Homo sapiens: one gene and its partners. The protein of the gene in region 1 interacts with the protein of each later gene in a pairwise test. Each region holds a gene or a part of one and is shown in the gene's direction. Other genes may lie near its edges. The genes, in order: M1AP, OTX1, OTX2, CWF19L2 and BAHD1.

Evidence for each region.
Region 2: the proteins of M1AP (region 1) and OTX1 interact in binary tests that used the Homo sapiens proteins (3 or more experiments, as listed by UniProt).
Region 3: the proteins of M1AP (region 1) and OTX2 interact in binary tests that used the Homo sapiens proteins (3 or more experiments, as listed by UniProt).
Region 4: the proteins of M1AP (region 1) and CWF19L2 interact in binary tests that used the Homo sapiens proteins (3 or more experiments, as listed by UniProt).
Region 5: the proteins of M1AP (region 1) and BAHD1 interact in binary tests that used the Homo sapiens proteins (3 or more experiments, as listed by UniProt).

What each region holds. Positions count from the first base shown.
Region 1 is NC_000002.12:74,637,752-74,641,988, reverse strand, and holds part of M1AP (meiosis 1 arrest protein), read left to right. Parts: intron 1-1,661; coding exon of another isoform or gene 1,662-1,713; coding exon 1,714-1,953; intron 1,954-4,237. UniProt on the Homo sapiens protein: Required for meiosis I progression during spermatogenesis.
Region 2 is NC_000002.12:63,055,771-63,058,758, forward strand, and holds the end of OTX1 (homeobox protein OTX1), read left to right. Parts: coding exon 1-546; 3' UTR 547-2,061; downstream 2,062-2,988. UniProt on the Homo sapiens protein: Probably plays a role in the development of the brain and the sense organs. Can bind to the BCD target sequence (BTS): 5'-TCTAATCCC-3'.
Region 3 is NC_000014.9:56,803,679-56,807,915, reverse strand, and holds part of OTX2 (homeobox protein OTX2), read left to right. Parts: intron 1-2,248; exon of another isoform or gene 2,249-2,340; 5' UTR 2,341-2,459; coding exon 2,460-2,556; intron 2,557-3,552; coding exon 3,553-3,728; intron 3,729-4,237. UniProt on the Homo sapiens protein: Transcription factor probably involved in the development of the brain and the sense organs. Can bind to the bicoid/BCD target sequence (BTS): 5'-TCTAATCCC-3'.
Region 4 is NC_000011.10:107,447,579-107,451,815, reverse strand, and holds part of CWF19L2 (CWF19-like protein 2), read left to right. Parts: intron 1-4,237.
Region 5 is NC_000015.10:40,461,080-40,465,316, forward strand, and holds part of BAHD1 (bromo adjacent homology domain-containing 1 protein), read left to right. Parts: intron 1-832; coding exon 833-1,215; intron 1,216-2,781; coding exon 2,782-2,941; intron 2,942-3,391; coding exon 3,392-3,468; intron 3,469-4,237.

The sequences.
Region 1 (4,237 bases):
CTGTAATCCCAGCTACTCAGGAGGCTGAGGCAGGAGAATCGCTTGAACCCGGGAGGCGGAGGTTGCAGCGAGCCAAGATCATGCCATTGCACTCCAGCCTGGGCAACAAGAGTGAAACTCCATCTAAAAAAAAAAAAAAAATTAGTTGAGGAGTGTATCCTGTTATATATGTTCTTCTGTTCTTAAAATAATTTGTTTAAGATTGAAATTCTTGGCTGGGCGCGGTGGCTCACACCTGTAATCCCAGCACTTCAGGAGGCCGAGGCAGGTGGATCACTTGAGCCCAGGAGTTTGAGACCATCTTGGGCAACATGGCAAGACCCCATCTCTACAAAAAAAAAAAAAAAGATTGAAATTCTTGGTCTTTGCATGTTTGATGGAGCTCATCAGTGAAATCATCTGACCCTCTTACTTGTGGGAAGATATTTGATTACCAATTACATTTCCTTAATGATTATAGACTATTTAGGTTTCTAAAATTTCTTTAGTATTGGTTAGATACATTTTTCTAGGAATTTGTCCACTTTATCAAACTTATTAGCATAAAGCTATTCATTATGTCCTCCTATAACCCTTTTCACGTTTGAGCATTTGTGATGATGTCCCTTTCTCATTCCTTATATTGGTTCTTTGTTCTCAATTGTTCTCACTTCCTAATCTGAGTCCTGGGGATAAGTATAAGTAGCCAGTAGAGAAAGAAGGCAGGAGTATTGGAGGCAGAGAAGCAGCATGAGCAAATGCACTAAAGTGAATATATTTGGTATTGTTTCCGTGAAAATCTTGAGGCGAAGAACAATTTCTAATGAGGCTAACAATTAAGTAATGACAGGTCTTAAAGACAGTTTAAATTTTACCTTATAAGAGATTCAGACAACCAAAGAATTTTAACCAAGGAGAAATGTAGTCATATTTTCATTTTTAAGAATTATTCGTTAGGTACTAAACACACATATGCTAGGCATTGATGAATAATATCAACAAGACAGGTTCTCTACCCTTGGGAAGCTTACAATATAGTGGGAGAGGCAGTCATAGAAACAAATTGTAATAGAGTGCAATAAATGCCAATAAAGAAACAAAGTTTATGAGGGCAGATAGCTTACTTTGAGACAGAAGCTTGAGTTTTTTGGTGTAACTTTTGATTAGTTCCACTCAGCATCTCTAAGCATTCTCAGGCTTACATGATAGGCAAACATCTAGATCTCTTGGGAGCTGTTAAAATAGGATGGCCTGGGCCAGGTACGGTGGCTCACGCCTGTAATTCCAGCACTTTGGGAGGCCAAGGCGGGCGGATCGTGAGGTCAAGAGATCAAGACCATCCTGGCCAACATGGTGAAACCCCATCTCTAAAAATACAAAAATTAGCTGGGCGTGGTGGTGTGCACCTGTAGTCCTAGCTACTCGGGAAGCTGAAGCAGGAGAATCGCTTGAACCTGGGAGACAGAGGTTGCAGTGAGCCAAGATCGCACCACTGCGCTCCAGCCTGGTGACATACCGAGACTCTGTCTCAAAAAAAAAAAAAAAATAGGATGGCCTGGACAAGCTTTAGTACCCAATCTGACTCCTTTCTGGATTTGTTTCCCTCGACTTGTATTTTATATTTCAACAGAGCACACATAATTCAGTTTGAAAACCAGTGGTTTCTCTTTCCTTCCCTATAGGTGTAAAGAATATCCAGCTGGTGGCTACAGTTCCCCCTCTGGTTTTGCTGCCATGCATCCTGGGCGAACTACTGGTAAAGGGCCCTCTACTCACACTCAGATTGACCAGCAACCTCCACGGCTTCTCATTGTGCACATTGCTCTACCGTCCTGGGCTGACATCTGCACCAACCTCTGTGAGGCTCTGCAGAACTTCTTCTCTCTAGCCTGCAGCTTGATGGGCCCCAGCCGCATGTCCCTGTTCAGTTTATACATGGTACAAGATCAGCATGAGTGCATCCTCCCTTTTGTGGTAAGTATATCTATATTTATTCATTTTACCCTGAAAGCAAATACAGTGGTAAGGTTTCTGGAATAGAGATCACAGTTATTAATACTTATAACAATAACCGCACTACTTCTCCACACACAGTAGCCCCCGAGTAACACCATGAGAGCCAGAGGGCATCCTGCATATATAGGGGTGTGTACTGTTGAAGAGAAAATCCAAAATTATTAATCTGGGAGTATAAATAGGCTACAAGCTCCACTCCAGAGAGAGGGAGAGAAACCTTGGCATTGACAGATGTTTGAAATGTAAACAACTGACTCCTTTTATGCCCTTTGAAATGTAAACACACAAGGAGGGAAGCCTCTAAATCTCTTCTGAGGTCTCTGACTATTCAATCATCTTTTAACTTCCAAGACTTGCCCTTTAACCCAGGTACCAGTTTTCTTTGCTCAGAAAGCCCTAACTATGCAAAAACATGAAAATATTTTTTCTACATTCCACATAGACTCAGGTGAAACTGCCCCCTAGGGTTATGGAAGGCAATGGCTGGGCCAGGGGCAGTGTCTTTACAAAGCTCCTTCATACATAAACAATTATCTATGCTCCTCCTCAAAATTTCAATCTTCCCTTTCTCCCTTGTATAAAATTCAGAATCATAGTGAAGAGAAAGACTTCCAGAGGTTCTATGCATCTCCTTCCTTGAGGTAGCCTTGCTGCTAATATACGTTATCAAATGGATATAAGTCTTATTTAAGATTTCCAAAAGAGGAAATTTCATAAATCCATTGCTGAATTATGAATGTAATATATGACTGAAATCTATTTTTTTATTAATGCCTTAGTTTCCCTCATTGGAAGTGGAAAGATAACATCTCTGTTGATACTATAAAGAATGAAAATAATATATATTACTTCATGCTTCTTGAGTTAGAACATACCCTGGTTGCTTTGACAGAACCTTAGGCTTATAACAACTCATGGTTTATTTCTTGACAAAAGTCACACAGGGAAAGTTTTGAGTATAAATGCTCCAGTGCTAAGTATGGGGATTTTGTCTGTGCATTGTTACTTAGGCTGGGTTGGGGATGGGAAAAGGATAAAATTATTTAAGAAATTCAACTGATCCTTTCTACAGTTTGAGCAGAATTTGGTACCTCTATTCATTGTTTATTGCTGTGTAACAAATTATCCCAAAATGTAGTGGTCTAAATTAATAAACATCATCTCATAGTTACTATGAGTTAGGAATTCATAAGTGGCTTAGGTAGATCAGGCTTGGGGTCCCTCATGAGATTGTAGCCAAGATGTCAGTCATCTGAAAGCTTGATTGAGGCTGGAGGATCCAGTTGCAAGATGGCGTATTCACTTAGCTGTTGGCAGAAATTCTTGTTTCCTGACCACTTGGATCTCTCCAAAGGGCTGCTTGAATGTCCTTAATTTGTGGCAGCGGGCTTCTCCCAGAACGACTGATCCAAAAGAGAGAGAGAGCAATGAAGAAGCCAAAATACCTTTTATGTCTTAGTCTCAAAAGTAACATGTTGTCACTTCCTCCACATTCTGTTCATTGGAAGCAAGTCACTGTTCCACCCTAGATAGAATAACAGCAAGCTGATTTACCCTCTTGCCTCAAACAATAAAAAAAAACTGGATAAAACCTATGAAAAACACTTTTCAAAACACTGGACATCACGCAGCAAAGAACAAAGCCCCCTGGGTGATAGGAAGTCAATGAGGTGAGACTTAGAATTGTTCCAGCTTGCAGATCACCTGAGGTCAGTAGTTCAAGACCAGCCTGGCCAACATGGTAAAACCCCACCTCTACAAAAATACAAAAATTATCCAGGCATGATGGCGGCTGCCTGTAATCCCAGCTACTCGGGAGGCTGAGGCGGGAGAATCGCTTGAACCCTGGAGGCGGAGGTTGTAGTGAGCCGAGGTCGCGCCACTGCACTCCAGCCTGGGTGACAGAGCAAGACTCCGTCTCAAAAAAAAAAAAAAGAATTGTCCCAGCTTACTGCCTTGAGAAAGTTTCTAAGCTACAATGCAGAGAGGGAGAACCTAGGGGCGGGTGCCAGTGGTTTCCTTGAGTCAAGGAGATGGATCTGGGACTTCAGAGAGACCAAGGTATTAATAGCTAGAGGAGAAGGAGCTACATACAGAACTCTATAAAGACCTGAAGAGGGTGCCCCTTGAGTATTCAGCAGAGTACTGATCAGTACATGCACATGAGGAAACTACCCAAGGCCAAAGAAGGAGCCACCCTGAAGGACTAGAGACAGTGGTACCTGATACTCACAACTGGAAT
Region 2 (2,988 bases), about 12 Mb from region 1:
TCATCTATCTGGAGCCCGGCCTCCATCTCGCCAGGCTCAGCGCCCGCGTCCGTGTCGGTGCCGGAGCCATTGGCCGCGCCTAGCAACACCTCGTGTATGCAGCGCTCCGTAGCTGCAGGCGCCGCCACCGCAGCAGCCTCTTATCCCATGTCCTACGGCCAGGGCGGCAGCTACGGCCAAGGCTACCCTACGCCCTCCTCTTCCTACTTTGGCGGCGTGGACTGCAGCTCATACCTAGCGCCCATGCACTCACATCACCACCCGCACCAGCTCAGCCCCATGGCACCCTCCTCCATGGCGGGCCACCATCATCACCACCCACATGCGCACCACCCGTTGAGCCAGTCCTCAGGCCACCACCACCACCATCACCACCACCACCACCAAGGCTACGGTGGCTCTGGGCTTGCCTTCAACTCTGCCGACTGCTTGGATTACAAGGAGCCTGGCGCCGCTGCTGCTTCCTCCGCCTGGAAACTCAACTTCAACTCCCCCGACTGTCTGGACTATAAGGACCAAGCCTCATGGCGGTTCCAGGTCTTGTGAGCCCAGGAATGAAAGAGGAGAAGAAACGCAACTACCTGCGCCCTCCGTGGTCCCGATCCTGTTGCTGCTGCTGCACCGCCCGCCTTTGCCTCGTCTTCTCCAAAACTGAATTTTCACCCCCCAAAAAGATGTCCATTGCCTGCACTGCCGCCCCCATTTTTGTGCCACTTGCTTGGGGGGATGTGCAAACCCACCCTGCCCCTTGGATGGGGGGACCGGTGCTTCGGCTTGGCCTACACATTCTATACAGGAGAGATGTATTATTTCCCCCCTTCAGCCCCTACTAAACTCTTAAGCCTCCCCTTCCAGTCTTTCTGGACAGCTATTAAGCACTTGCAGCCTTCGGAGGCTCTGCGCTCTGATCCGCTGTTTGAGCCCAACACTTTAATTTATTCTTTCTGGACACTGGAGTCACTAACTGGCGTGTTTCTGCCCATTGGAGCACCCGCACACTACTCCAAATCAAAACCACTAAGAGTTCCTCCCGCGCAGACTGCTGCCCCTTCAGCTGCCCTCGATTTTGCTCCACGCCTGCCGGCCAGAGCCTCCCGGCGTTTCTTCCGCCCCAGCGGAGTGCGCTGGGGCGCGCCAGGGCTAGGCCCGCCGGAGGAGCGCGTCCCCAGCCTTCCGCGCACAGAGCCGCATCCCGCCCCGCCCTGCGCTGGACTGGTTCAAGCTTCCGCCTCGGCGGGAACGCTGTACATAGTCAGGTCCGTTCCAGGGACCACTTAAACTTTTTAGTTGCTGTTGGTTGGTTGAACTGAACATATCTTGTCTTAGCACCCAGGAAACAGAACTTTAAGATATATACAGCACATATATATATATATACATATATATATACACATATATAAAAAACAAAAGCAAAAAATATTTTCCCTCTGTCCGTCCCCCTTCTGCTCTTCCTCAATCAATGGCGCTTTTTCTTTTTCAGTTGTTGCAAAGCTGCCCTGCCCTCTTCACATCTTCTCCCTCTGTGTATTTATTGAAGAGAACCGCTTGGTTTCAGGAAGCTGGGCGCGGGATATCCGAAGTGTGGAGGAAACAGACAAGTCAGGGTACAGAGGTGGGGGTTGGGCAGGGGCGCAGGGCTGACCCCCTCACCCGGTCTAAGCACAGGGTCGCAGTTCCAGTTTACAAACCTAAAACAAGAAAACCAAAACCAGGGAACAAAACAACAAAACAAAACAAAATCCGTAAAAGTACAGCATTAGGGAAAAACAAACAAACCCAGGCCCCAAACCCAGTTCCAACTCCTCTGTCGGCTTCTCTCTTTCAACACCCTTGTTTTGTCTAGTGAGTTTTTAGTGCACCTTCGTTCTCCGAAATCTGCGGAGAGCCCGCGCGCCTGTGTATCAATTTTGGCTTTGGCCGCTTCGTCCAGTAGGTGGGAAAGTAATTTGTAAATTTGATTTGTCTGATGTGAAGATCACAAATTACTTGTTGAAATGTAAGGCAGTCCCCCTCCTCCTCTTTATCTACATTACTTCCCGAAAATAAATGCAAATTAATGAACGGCTTGTCAGTGTTGCTCTTCTGATTCCAGCCCGAGGTCCTGGTCTCGGGGGGCTAAAAGCGAGGGAAACTCCGTGTTAATAACCCGCGTGTTAATGACCTGCGTGAAGCTGGAGGCCAAAGGATGAGGCGGGAGGACTTGGCAAGAGAAGTCCCCAGAAACTTTCGCTTAGGGAGTGTCTCCCCCCACCCCCACCACGCCCCTCCGCGTCAGCCTGGCCTCTTCCCCCAGGCGTTTTGACCCCGCATCCCCCCTCGCCATCCAGGACAGAGACAGGTGTCAGGACTCAATTCCCGAAGCAATTCCTTTCTCTTCAGAGGCAGGAGCCTGGCACTGATTTCTTCACCCTAATTGCCTGCACCAGAAAGAAGAGGGGGAGGGGAAGAGGGTCGGGAGGCGGGAAAGGATAGCTCTGTAATGCTCTCAGAGCTGAGCCAAAAAGGAAAAGAAAGCAAAACGACAAAAAACTGATCCGTGTCCTGCATGTTGGCAGCAGACAACCTTCCTTGCTGCTGAGCTGTCCCGGGTGGCTTCACCGCGGCTGGGGAATCCGAGCCATTCCTTCCACGTGCTAAGATGTCCCTCTAAGCCCTCAGCTCCTGCCAGAAGTAGCCAAATTACCTTTCTTCGTACTGTAAACTTCCTTTAAAACATACAAACTCATAACCTGGAAAAGTCGACAAGGACGCCTTTCACTTTGGCAGGGGAAGAAGACGACTGGCTTGCATCTGGGGGTCAGGAAGGACAGTTCCATCTCCCTCTGAGGGAAGACGGGGTTGAGGGGTAATCCTCCCCCAGAAAATGCAGAGCCTGGAACTGTCCAGACTCTGGCCTGAAACCTCCTGGGTGTAAGGCCATGAATCTGCTCGACTTGCTCACGGGCGGGAAGGAAACAAGGAAACAACGAAAAGTTTCCTGCGAAGTGA
Region 3 (4,237 bases), on another chromosome or scaffold:
CTGCCGGAACTCGCCGCGCGACCGCGGTCAGCTTCTAGGTATGAGTTCTCCAGAGGCCACCTCGTGAGCAGTCATAGTGAGGCGTGGATTTTTCAAAAGTTATTTCTTTTCCCCGTTCTGGACCCTGCTTCGAGAGGAAAAGAGCTTTGAAAGTTAGATTGAAGGGCCCATGCCTTCTATGCAGAGTGCATACCTAGGCCGGTTGTGGAGAGAATCTCTTAGTTTTGGGTTTTGGTTTTCCTCTTTTCCTTTTAAAGGTGGATCCAGGAGCAAAAGTGAAAATAGTCTATTTTGAGAATTTTAGCCATTTTGCAATGGTAAGGGCAAAGGAGCCCCTGGAAGGATCTCGGCCCTGGTGCTTTCTGTGTGTTACTGGCTTTTTATGTTGGAATGTGCTACTTTATTGTATGATGTGTCAGGCATTTCTAATTGGGTGAGAGCTCTACATGTAAGAACATTTCCATATTTCTCAAGGGTACATCTGATATGATTTTACGATTCTCTATAGCACTGTAGTTCAGAATTTTGCAAGGTAGTACGATTAAACAAAAAATCTCCAATCTCCAGTTTAGAGGCTGTTTAAACACATATACAACTGTATTTTAAAGCTGTCGCATATGTGTTTAAACAGCCTCTAAGCTGGAGATTTTTGTTTATTTTCGCAGCCTCCAAAGAACAGCATTTTGAAAAGAAAAGACAATACAAAAACATAAAGTCTGTATTGTAGGGGCAACTAAATTAGTTGTACTGAGGATAATACAAACTCCTCCAAGAAAGACATTTATAAAATTATATTAAGTTAGATCTTAGGGTAGAAAAGCATGACTTTTGTGCTCTGAATTTAAATCAGAAAGAAGTTGCAGTTACTAAGTTTCATTTATGGACTTTTGTGCCTTGCTGTCTTAAGCAACGTAAATATGAAAACCCGGAGTCCTTTAAAGTCAGTGAGACCTTTATCTTGTATCCGCCATTTTGAAGCAATCTCTCATGGTGTCAAAGTTTCAAAGTAGAGATCCTTGCATATAAGTGCCACATTTTAGGAAAATAAAGGCCAGACTTGCAAACTGCCAGTCTATATTAACATCTACTTTGAATCTCTTTGCTGGGGTGGAGGCGGGGAGCTCAGCTGAAGAAAGTAAATAACTTTTCTTTTTCTTCCTTTCTTTTCCCCCTTGAGCTCTTTTTCTTATAGGATTGTAGGAAACTTGAAAGGTAGGGAGAAATTCTACTAGTTTCACAACTTTGGGTGTTTGTGTATCTACTTTCTTCAAAACTAAAATGTGCAAAAGGCAGTTAGAGTTAACAGGAAACTCTGCTGCAGCTGCCGAGGACCCAAATGTCTGAAAATTTGCCTCCCGCAGGATCTGCAGCCTCCACACATCAAAATCAACATGGAAGCAGCTTGCACTACAAATGTGGGGTCCCGTCATTATCTGATTGGTGGGATTCTAACTTTACTTCACAATTTCTGGCAAGCCCTGTGCCAATCTTGAAGACTTTTTTGGAATATGCTTAAATATTTGATGGGTGTCTATTAAAAGTTAAATACTTGTTTGTTTAGCTTTCGTTCCTTAGACACATATAATCAAGATTCTCCAAAACCCTAATAAATCTGTTACTTACCTCGAAATCTAATTACCCAGACTACTAATTAGGTGAAAATGATTACCGGAAATGACTTCAAATGTGGAATAATAGTGGTTGAGCGGTTTTTCCAAGTTTGTGGTTTAGTGAGTTGGTATTTTAGATGTTAAACGCACTGACATTTTAGGTTCGCAGCAGTTGAAAGTGGTAAAAAGCTAAGATAATTAAAATCTCTGCCATGGAAAGGCAACAGTCTGGGGAGAGGTAGATTTCTTGAATTGTTTCTTTGTTTCTCACCAATGGGCTTTGTTATCAGCATTATTTATTTAGCCAAAGAGTTCTTTGTCTCTGCAAATGGCCCCAATCAAGTTTTGTTTGAGACAATTAGCTAGTGCCAGCCAATGAGTCCTATGCAAATGTAGGGATAGGAATGCAATGTGTGCATTTGAAGGCACGGGTTTTTGTTCTTGGGGAAGGCAGATTGTAATTGCTTTCTTCGGGTACTTTTTTTTTTTTTTTAAGTTTAGGGTGGGGGTGGGGAAGACAGGTTTATCTGGTCTCCTTCCATCCCCTCTAGTTCCAGAGCAGCTGGGGGTGGGGGTGGGGATGGGGGTGGGGGGAGTGTCTGCAAGTCCTTTAAAAGCCTCTGCCTCGCCTAGTCCGTGCTCTTTTTAAGTTAGTGCTGGAACGTGGAAGAGCTGCTGCCTCCGAAGCAGTAAACCAGCCCCTCTGTTTGTTTGTTTGCTTTGCCCTTAGTTCCACTGCTCCAAACCCACCCACCAAGGACTCTGAACCTGTCCACCCCGGGCGCATCAAGATCTTCCAGCTGGGTACCCCCGATTTGGGCCGACTTTGCACCTCCAAACAACCTTAGCATGATGTCTTATCTTAAGCAACCGCCTTACGCAGTCAATGGGCTGAGTCTGACCACTTCGGGTATGGACTTGCTGCACCCCTCCGTGGGCTACCCGGGTAAGTGAGCCCTGCTGCACTCCCGCACCCCTCTTCCCCATGCCCACCCTCCGGGGATGCAACACCCTGTTCCCATGGAACACGGGGGTTGGCAGTCACACTGTCCCCACCCAGCTTCAGGCTTGGTCTCCTCTAGGTTTGCCTTCTGAGGAAGCAGTCCCAGGGCATTTACTGACCAAGCAGAGAACAGGGGTTGGGAAAAGTGAGTAGGTGGGTCTGCAACCGTTACAATCACATCACTTTATTCTTAATTCGAGTAAATAAGGATTGGCATCAGAGTGGGATGAGGAAGGTTACTGTCCTTGTCATTTGGGCAAAAGACCCCTACCCATATCTCAATGACCAATTCCTCAGAAGTGTCCTCTTGGAGAAGCTGAGTTTTCCCTCCGTAAGTCCTTAGCACTCTCGGGCTTCGCAGTTGTTCCCTCCATGCCCAGGCCTTCCCCTATGACCTCCAGAGCCTGCTTTAATCCCAAGAGGCGTGACTTCCTCCAAATGCGGGTGCTTTCCTTTCCAATCAGATATGTTTAAAAATCCTCCCAGGAGTATGAACTATGTCCCCATTTTAAAGATGGAGGAACAAAGGCCCATGGTGTGCTAAAAACCATGGGAACAGGATCCAGATTTCCCCCATCAATTCGAGCTGCCAGTCTGTCCTCGGAGATCCTTTGACTTCTTGGAATAGCCTTTTTGTGTTGTGGTTTGGGGGTTGATCTTGGAGAACTTTTTTGTGTGTCTTTTAAAAAATGTTTCATTTGTTAACTTTCCAAGTGATGCTCTGATTGGAGCAATCTCAACACCAAGAAGAGTAGGGAAAGAAGCAGCGTGTGTCCTGGGTCCCCGGGGAGCAAGGCTGGGGAGACGGTGGGGAGAGCATTGGTAGGCTCCCGGCTGAAGGGCTGTGAGGAACGGGGGACTGCTGCGGGGTGGAGGGCAGGGGCGTCGGAGAACCCGCGGAAACGCCTATGACTGAGAAACTGCTCCCCCACCCTAAAGGGCCCTGGGCTTCTTGTCCCGCAGCCACCCCCCGGAAACAGCGCCGGGAGAGGACGACGTTCACTCGGGCGCAGCTAGATGTGCTGGAAGCACTGTTTGCCAAGACCCGGTACCCAGACATCTTCATGCGAGAGGAGGTGGCACTGAAAATCAACTTGCCCGAGTCGAGGGTGCAGGTAGGGCAGATGCAGGCAGAACCATCCTTCCTGATCATGCCACCCTTCCCGAGTATGGGACTGTGGAGAGCCCCAGGTCTTTCAGAGGACTGAAGGAAGGCTTGAAATTCTCCTTCACTCACTAAGGGGCCAGGAAACTATTCTCCTTCTGCCCTTTTTTGCCTGCCCGTCACCACTTAATCCCGTAAGCAAGGGTCTTCAAGGCCCGGGTTGCTGGTGGAGAGAGACCCATCCTTGAGCAGGTTTCAAGAGTAGTCACGTGGTGTTGTAACCCTTCCCTTCCTCTGTATAGAAATCCTCTCCTATTCTCATGGACTTGTACGTGTGAAAGCAGCTTAGCTCTTGGACAGTCCAAGTATTTTTACAGATGAAAAAATAGAGTAAATGACTTGCTCAAGGTCATAACTAAGTTTGGTGGCAGAGTCAGGGTATAGACGCAGCTGGTGCTTTTACCAAATAAATCAACACAAAAAGAATGTATTTTCCTTGACTTCTTAGGGATTGAAGAG
Region 4 (4,237 bases), on another chromosome or scaffold:
GGTCCTGGAGTTTCTTTGTGGAATGGGTTTAACGACAGAGTTAATTCCTTTAATAGTTGTGTTAAATACTTTCTGTTTATTCTTGAGTTAGTTTTAGTAATTTCGGTTTTTCTGGGAATTTATTCCATAGAAATTGTCAAATTTATTGTCATAAAGTTATTTGTAATATTTCCTTTGTTCTTTTAATGTTTACGGAATCCATAGTGATACCCCTCTTTCATCCCTGATTTTGGTAATTTCTATTTTCTGTTTGTTTCCTCTGTCAGTCTGTCTTGAGGCTTATCAGTTTTATTAATCTTTCTTTATTGCCTTTTAGTTTCCTTGAATTTTCTCTGGTTGTGTGTTTTCTATTTCATTGATTTAAACTATATTTATTCTTTGCGAATACTTTGTGTTTAATTTGCTCTTCTTTTTCTAACTTTCTAAGATGAATGTATCGCCACTGATTTGAAATCTTTTCTAACGTGTATTTATTTTATAAAATTTTCTCATAGCACTGTTGTATCTCTACGTAACTTTGATGTTATATTTTCATTGCTGTCCCATTCAAAATATTTTTTACTTTACTTTTTCTTACTCATGGATATATAAGAGTTTTTAAACTTGCAGATATTTGTGGATTTTTCTAGTTTTTTTTTGGGTTATTGACTTTGATTTTAATTATTATGTTATACTCTGTATAATTTCAGTTTTTAAAAAGTTTTTGAGACATTTTATTTTCTAGCCTATGATCTATTTTGGTGAAAATTCCATATGTATTTGAAATGAGTATGTATTCTGCCATTGTTAGGTATAGTGTTTTATAAATGTCAATTAGGGAAAGTTGACTAATAGTATTAAGTTTAGTGTTAATGATTTTCTGTTCACCTGTTCAGTCAGTTACTGAGAAAATAGTATTGAAATCTCTTAATTGTTTTGTGGATTTTACCTATTTCTGCTTTCAGTTTTGTCAGTTTTTGCCTTATGTAATTTTGAAGCTTTATTAGGTACATAGACAGCTCCTTGATGAACTGACTGTTGTTACGAAGTTTTCGTTTTTATCTTTGGTAATACTCTTGTCTGAAGTCTCTTGTATCTCATATTAATAAAGCCTCTTCAGTTTTCTTTTTTTGTGTGTTTTCATCGTCTTTTTAAAATTCTTTTAGTTTTAATGTACCTTTTTTATATATTGAAAGTGTATTTCTTGTAAGCAGTGTATAATTGGGTCTTGCTTTTTTATCTCGCCTATCAATTTCTTCTTTTTTATTTTATTGATTGATTGATTTATTGATTGATTGACAGAGTCTTGCTTTGTTGCCCAGGCTAGAGTGTAGTAGATCACTGCAGCTTCAACCCCTGGGGCTCAAGTGACTCTCCCACCTCAGCCTCTTGAAAGCTGGGACTACGGGTGTGCACTTCGACGTCCAGGATATATATATATGAGTTTTTAAATTTCCAGATATTTGTGGATTTTATTAGGTTTTTTTGGTTATTGACTTTGGATTTAATTATTATTTTATTGTACTCTGTATAATTTCAGTTGTTAAAAAGTTTTTGAGACATTTTATATTCTAGCCTATGATCTATATATATTTTGTAGAGATGTGGTTTTGCCATGTTGCCCAGCCTGGTCTCAAAGTCTTGACCTTAAGCAATCCTCCCACCTGGGACTCCCAAAGTGCTGGAATTACAAATGTGAGCCACTGCATCTGGCCTCTTCCTTTTTTTTTTTTTTCTTGAGATGGAGTCTCACACTGTCACCCAGGCTGGAGTGCAGTGCCGCAATCTTGGCTCACGTCTCTTACTTTTCAATTAGATGTTTTTTGTGCTCTCTAATCTGTTAGCTGTTTATGGCTTTTAAATTTTTTGTTAAAATTCATTAAAATTATATCAGCCAAATTTATGTGGCTACTATATTCGACAGTATATAGAAAAATTCTTTGAATAGTACTGGTTTGGATTATTTATGTTTAATGTAATAATTGATATGGATGAGTTTAAGTCTACCATGTTGTTATTCCTTTTCTATTTTTTCTTTGTTCTTTTTTCCTTTGTTCCTTCCTTTTCCTGTCTTTTGGATCGAGTGTTTTTTAGCATCCCATTTCATCTGCTGTAGGCTTATTAGGTATACCTTATTTATTTTTAATGACTGCTTTAAGTCTTATGCATATTTTAACTTACCATACTCTCAAATAATATATAATTTTACTTTTATAATTAGACTTTCACCAAAATATACTTCCATTTTCTCCTACCATATTTTTTGCTATTGTTGTCATATATTTTACTTCTACATATGTTATAAACCCACATTGTTTATAATTTTTAATGTCATACATTCTTTTTATTTATACTTTAGTCAGTTATCTTTTAAATAAGTTACACATATGAAGAAAGTCTTTTATATTTACCCACAGATTTATCATCTCTGATATTCTTTATTATTTTATGTAGGTCTGAATTTCTGTCTAATACCATTTTCCTTTTGTCTGTAGAACTTTCATTAACATGTATTATAATATGGATTTGCAGACATTGTATTCTCTCAGCTTTTGTTTGAAAATTTCTTTTATTTCATCTTCATTCTTTTTTTCTTTTACCACAAACTCAGAAGTTCCTACTAGCAATCTTCATTTTTCAGATACTTGGCTAGATAAAGAATTTTAAGTTTATAGTGTTTTCTTTTTTTTTTTTTTTTTGCACTGTAAAATGTCATCCCATTGTCTTCTGGTTTGCATTGTACATATTGAGAACTCTGTAGTCATTGTAATATTTTTTCTCTGTATGTAGTGTGCCTTTTTATTCTGGATGCTTTTAGGGCTTTTTTTTTCATCATTATTTTTCAGTGAATCAATTGTGATATGTCTTGGTATTGATTTCTTTGTGTTTATTCTACTGTCTTAGTTCATTTGGGCTGCTATACCAAAACTAACTGGGTGGATTATAAATGACAGAAACTTATTTCTCACAGTTTGGGAGGCTAGAAAGTCTAAGATCGAGGCGCTGGTAGACTTTGTGTCTGATGAGGGTTCAGTTCCTCAGAGATGGCTGTCTTCTCACTCTAACCTCATATGGCAGAAGGGAGTGCTCTTGGGCTATGTTTTATAAGGGCACTAATCCCATTCCCAGTCATCTCCCAAAGGCCTCAGCCCCTATTATCATTGTCTTGGGAGTCAGGATCTCAACATAAGAATTTGGTGGGGGACACAAACATTCAGAGTGTAGCATCTGCCTTAGGTTCATTGTGCTGCTTTGATTTGTGAGTTTACAGTTTCCATCAAATATGAAACTTTCAGGCTTTTTTCGAAGTATTTTTTTTTTCTGTTCCCTCTCATTTTGGTAGTCTCCTTAAAATAATGTCTCACAGGTTGATGAGCCTGTGTTCACTTACTTTCTAGCCTTTTTCCTTTCTATGCCTTGGGTTGGGTATATTTTATTGCTATGTCGTGAGCTTCAGGTTTACTGGCCTTTTTTTTTTTTTTTTTTTTTTTTTGTGACGGAGTCTCGCTCTGTTGCCAGGCGGGAGTGCAGTGGCGTGATCTCAGCTCACTGCAACCTCCGCCTCCTGGGTTGAAGTGATTCTCGTCCCTCAGCCTCCTGAGTAGTTGGGATTACAGGTGCTCATCACCACGTCCAGCTAATTGTTTGTATTTTTAGTGGAGATGGGGTTTCACCATGTTGGCCAGGATGGTCTGGATCTCCTGACCTCGTGATCTGCCTGCCTCAGCCTCCCAAAGTGCTGGGATTACAGGTGTGAGCCACTGCGCCTGGCCGACTGGCCTTTTCTTTTGCTGTGTCTAGCTTACTGTTATCCCTATCCAGTGACATTTTCATTTCAGGTACTGTATTTTTTTTTTATCATTAGATGTTTCGTTTGGATCTTTCTAATGTTTTTCAGTTTATCTCCTCATTATCTTTACATTTTCCCTTCCTTGAACATATTTATGATAGCTGTGTTAAAGTCTTGGTTTGCTGTTTCATTTTCTCTTGTTTTTTCCTGTTCTGTTTCAATTAAATGATTTTTCTCTTGAATATGGGTCACATTTGCTTGCTTCTTTGAATGTCTAGTAACTTTTAATTGGATGCTGAACCCTATGAAACTTATATTGTGACTGCTGGATTTTGTTGACTTCTTCAGAGAGTATTGAGTTTCCTTTTGGCATACAGTTAATTACTTGTGAATTAGCTTAATCCTTTTCAAGGATTGTTTTTAAGTTTTGTTCGTATGCACCTAGAATAGCTTTACTCTAGGACTGGT
Region 5 (4,237 bases), on another chromosome or scaffold:
TGTTCTCCCCCACTTTCCTAGCCATGTGACTATGGGCGAGTCAGTAACTGCTCTGTGTCTCAGTTTTCTTAACTATAAAATGGGTGTAATGATACCTATCTCACAGGGTTTTTGTAAGGATGAAATGAGTTAATGTGTTCGTAAGAAAACCAGCCAGTTGCTCTGAGGGGCAGAGTGACTTGCCTGAAGTCACATGGCTAGTAAGTGGCAGAACCCAGGCTGATTCTAGAACCCCTATTCCCAAGCATTATGAAAGCCTTAGAAAATTAATATCAGGGCCAGGCGCGGTGGCTCATGCCTGTAATCCTAGCACTTTGGGAGGCTGAGGCGGGCAGATTGCCTGAGCTCAGTAGGTTGAGACCAGCCTGTCTAACATGGTGAAACCCTATCTCTACTAAACATACAAAAAAATTAGCTGGGTGTGGTGATGGGCACCTGTAATCCCAGCTACTCAGGAGGCTGAGGCAGGAGAAATGCTTGAACCCGAGAGGCGGAGGTTGCAGTGAGCCAAGATAGCACCACTGCACTCTAGCCTGGGCAACAGAGCGAGACTCTGTCTCAAAAAAAAAAAAAGTTCGGAGTTAAAAAGGATGTTCCAACCACCTCTCTTTCAGACTAAAAGGGGAGATGGCCAATCTCCAAGATCAGGAAACACCCCTGTCCCCTTAGAGAGTCACTCTGACAGTCCACCATAAAAAGGCCTCTGATCCCATCGGCCACCTCAGTGGCCTTTGGTTGCACAGTTAGAATTAAGACAGGAGCAGGCTCTGAAAGCAGATGGGTGATGGGGGTCACTGCTTGTCCTGTCCTGACCACTCTCTCCCTTTCCTAGAAGGCTGCAGATCCCTGGGCCAGTTGGAATTTCCTCTCCCGGAAGCTGGCCACCCAGCCTCACCCGCCCACCCACTCCTGGGGTGCCCTGTACCCAGTGTGCCACCTGCAGCAGAGCCCGTCCCCCATCTTCAGACACCCACCTCGGAGCCCCAGACAGTAGCCCGTGCGTGCCCTCAGAGCGCCAAACCTCCCAGCGGTTCTAAGTCAGGTCTGCGCACAGGCTCCAGCTGCAGGCACACTGCAAGGAGCAAGGCTGCCCGCAGGCCTAGCCACCCCAAGCAGCCACGTGTCCAGCGCCCACGCCCTCGCCGCCGCCGTCGCCGCCGCACTAATGGCTGGGTACCTGTTGGGGCTGCGTGTGAGAAGGCTGTGTATGTCTTGGTAAGTGCTAGCTCTTAGCTGATGACGAGAGGGAGGGAGGCAGTGGGGACACATGACCTGCAGTGAGGTAGGTGCTAGAAGCACCTGGTTCTAGCTACTCTGAGAGCTGACAAGGGACTCCAGTTTACTTGTACCCCAGGAACCAGTCATGCTGGCCCACCCAGCTTGCTTCCCTAGCCCCCTACTGATCCTGTACCAGACACCCCAGGGAGGTCAGGAGACACACAGTCATAGCTGGTGGCTGCCATCTCGGTGAGTGTCTTCCCCTCCCCTCCCTGCTCACTTTGTCCCTTACACCCTGGATTGTAAAGTGGAGGACTTTCAATGGAGAACTTTTCTGGATAAGTCTATATAGGGGGCGTTGGAATGGGCAGAGAAAATTAGTGACACAGAGAACATCTCGGATGATGAAAAGAGGCCAAGTGCGGTGGCTCACATCTGTAATCCCAGTACTTTAGGTGGTGGAAGTGGTAAGATCGCATGAGGCCAGGAGTTCAAGACGAGCCTGAGCAATATAGACCTCATCTCTACAAAGTAAAAACATTAGTTAGCCAGGCATGGTGGTGTGCACCAGGAGGCTGAAGTGGGAGGATTGCTTAGGTCCAGGAGTTCAAGGCTGCAGTGAGCTGATTGCACCACTGCACTCCAGTCTGGGTGACAGAGAGACCCTGGCTTTTAAAATTAATTAATTAAAAACAAAAAGAATATTAACTAAAATTTATTGAGGCTGGGCAAGGTGGCTCATGCATATAATCCCAGAGCTTTCAGAGGCTGATGCTAGAGGATTGTTTGAGCTCAGGAGTTCAAGACCAACCTGGTCGACATAGCAAGATCCTGTCTACAGAAAAAAAATTTTTTTAATTAGCCAGGCATGGTAGCATGCATCTGTAGTCCCAGCTACTTGAGAGTCTGAGGCAGGAGGATCACTTGAGTCCAGGAGGTTGAGGCTGCAGTGAACTATGGTTGCACCACTGCATTCCAGCCTGGGTGACAGAGTGAGACCCTGTCTCTAAAAATAAATAAATACATAAATACATAAAATTTATTGAGCACTTCTTAGATGCCAGAACTGAGCTAAGCATTTTGTAAGTATTATGCCCTTTAATCCTCACCACTACCCTATGTGGTATATATCCCATCTTCCTATAATTAATCCCATTTTACAGATGTGGAAGCTGAGGCTTAGCAATACTTTAAATAATTTGTCAAAGGCTGTGCCCCTTATAACAGTGGTTTAAGGGTTCAGACCGAGACTTGTTCCATTAGGAAGCATGAGCACTTACCCAGCACTGGGGGTCTTGGAGTGAGAGTCAGCTGTCGGGTATGGTGGTCAGAGCTCAGCCCCAGAAGCTTCAGGCCACTTTTCCACCCCTATTCCCTTTTCTCATCCTTTCTCCAACCATGAGAATTCCCCAGCCCCATCCAAAAAAGGATAGTGGTTTGACAAAACCAAGGTAGTGGTTTGACTATCTTGAGGAAATCGTGGAAAGGATGTCATTCCCTCTCTCTGTCCTTACTCTGAGTGTGGCTCTGCAAGCCTATTTGTGTCATTGGTTTGTTGCCTAGGATGAGCCGGAGCCAGCCATCCGAAAGAGCTACCAGGCGGTAGAGCGGCATGGGGAGACAATCCGAGTCCGGGACACCGTCCTTCTCAAATCAGGCCCACGAAAGACCTCCACACCTTATGTGGCCAAGATCTCTGCCCTCTGGGAGAACCCCGAGTCAGGTACCTCTCCCTCTGGCTGGGGACCCAAGGGGCAGCTGCCTTCAGCAGAACTGTAGTCCCCAGATTGGCCCCTGCCTGGAGTTTGACCTGGCGTGAGTCTCCCCGTGTTCCTGGCACAGAGTCTGCCTTCCACTCGGCTGGGGTCTCTCTGCTGCCGAGGGCTGTGGGTGACCTTGTGGCTTGGGTTGGATCAGCTCATTAACCTTTCCAGCCAGCAGAGCCTGGGCACCTGTCCCCCCACCTCACCTGTCAGTGCCTTCTCCCCCTTCTCCCTCCATGCCTAACAGCATTCCAGGCCTCTGAATGCTTGGCCTGGGGCAGGGGACATGGGTTGCCGGAGCCTGCAGGATTGAGGTTGGATGAACCTCCAGGGCAGCCAGCCAGCCTCTCTGCCTGTCTAAGTAACTCAGGTTGCCAGTTCAAGCCATAACCACTGTGTTGTCCTTCCAGGAGAGCTGATGATGAGCCTCCTGTGGTATTACAGACCTGAGCACTTACAGGGAGGCCGCAGTCCCAGCATGCACGAGGTGAGCTGCCTGGCAGATGGGTCAGGGAGGGCAGGAGAGACAGAGGGAAAGGTTATGGCACTAAGACGTGGTAGGGGGAGGGCAGCCATGGGCTGTAGTCAAATCCCTGCGCTTGTCACTTTGGACTCCAGAGAACCTGGGAAAGGGCCCAGGATTTATTCTCTTTTCCCAACACTGCCCCAATTCATGTTTCAAAGGGAATAATAACCTTTGTCTTAAAAAGAGGAACAGAAAGGGAACCCTTGAGGTAGCAGGTGCCAATGGGAGCAAGTGGATGTGTTCCCCTGGAAACAGGAAAGGTGAGGTGGAGCTGCATACCTGGTCACTTTTGGTATTTTCTGTAGTAGGGGAGGGGAGGGGAGGAAAGACTCCTCCTAACACCCCATAGGCTCTCCACCAAGCTGTGTGCTAAAAGAGGTGACTGCCATCTGTGTGTGCCCTGGGCTCACCTTTTATTTCACTTTCCCTTGCAGGGACTTTCCATCTAACTGGAAAGATGAAGAACATTTCCCCTCTCCTACGCTAGGCAGGGCTGGGGTTTGGGAGGTCAGTGACAATCAGGGGCTAGAGCAGATACCTGGCTATTCTGGAGAAGGGGGGGACCTAGAAGGGACTCAGGAGGAATGCCTGGAGGCAGTAGGTGAGGCATACTTAGGCTGAATTTCCAGGGAAGCTTGCTGGAGTCATCTCAGGTCAGCAGGCCCAGCAGAGGGGTTAATGTCTGCCTTGCTCTGGGAATGAGGTGCTTTCCAGCCCTGGTAACAACCTC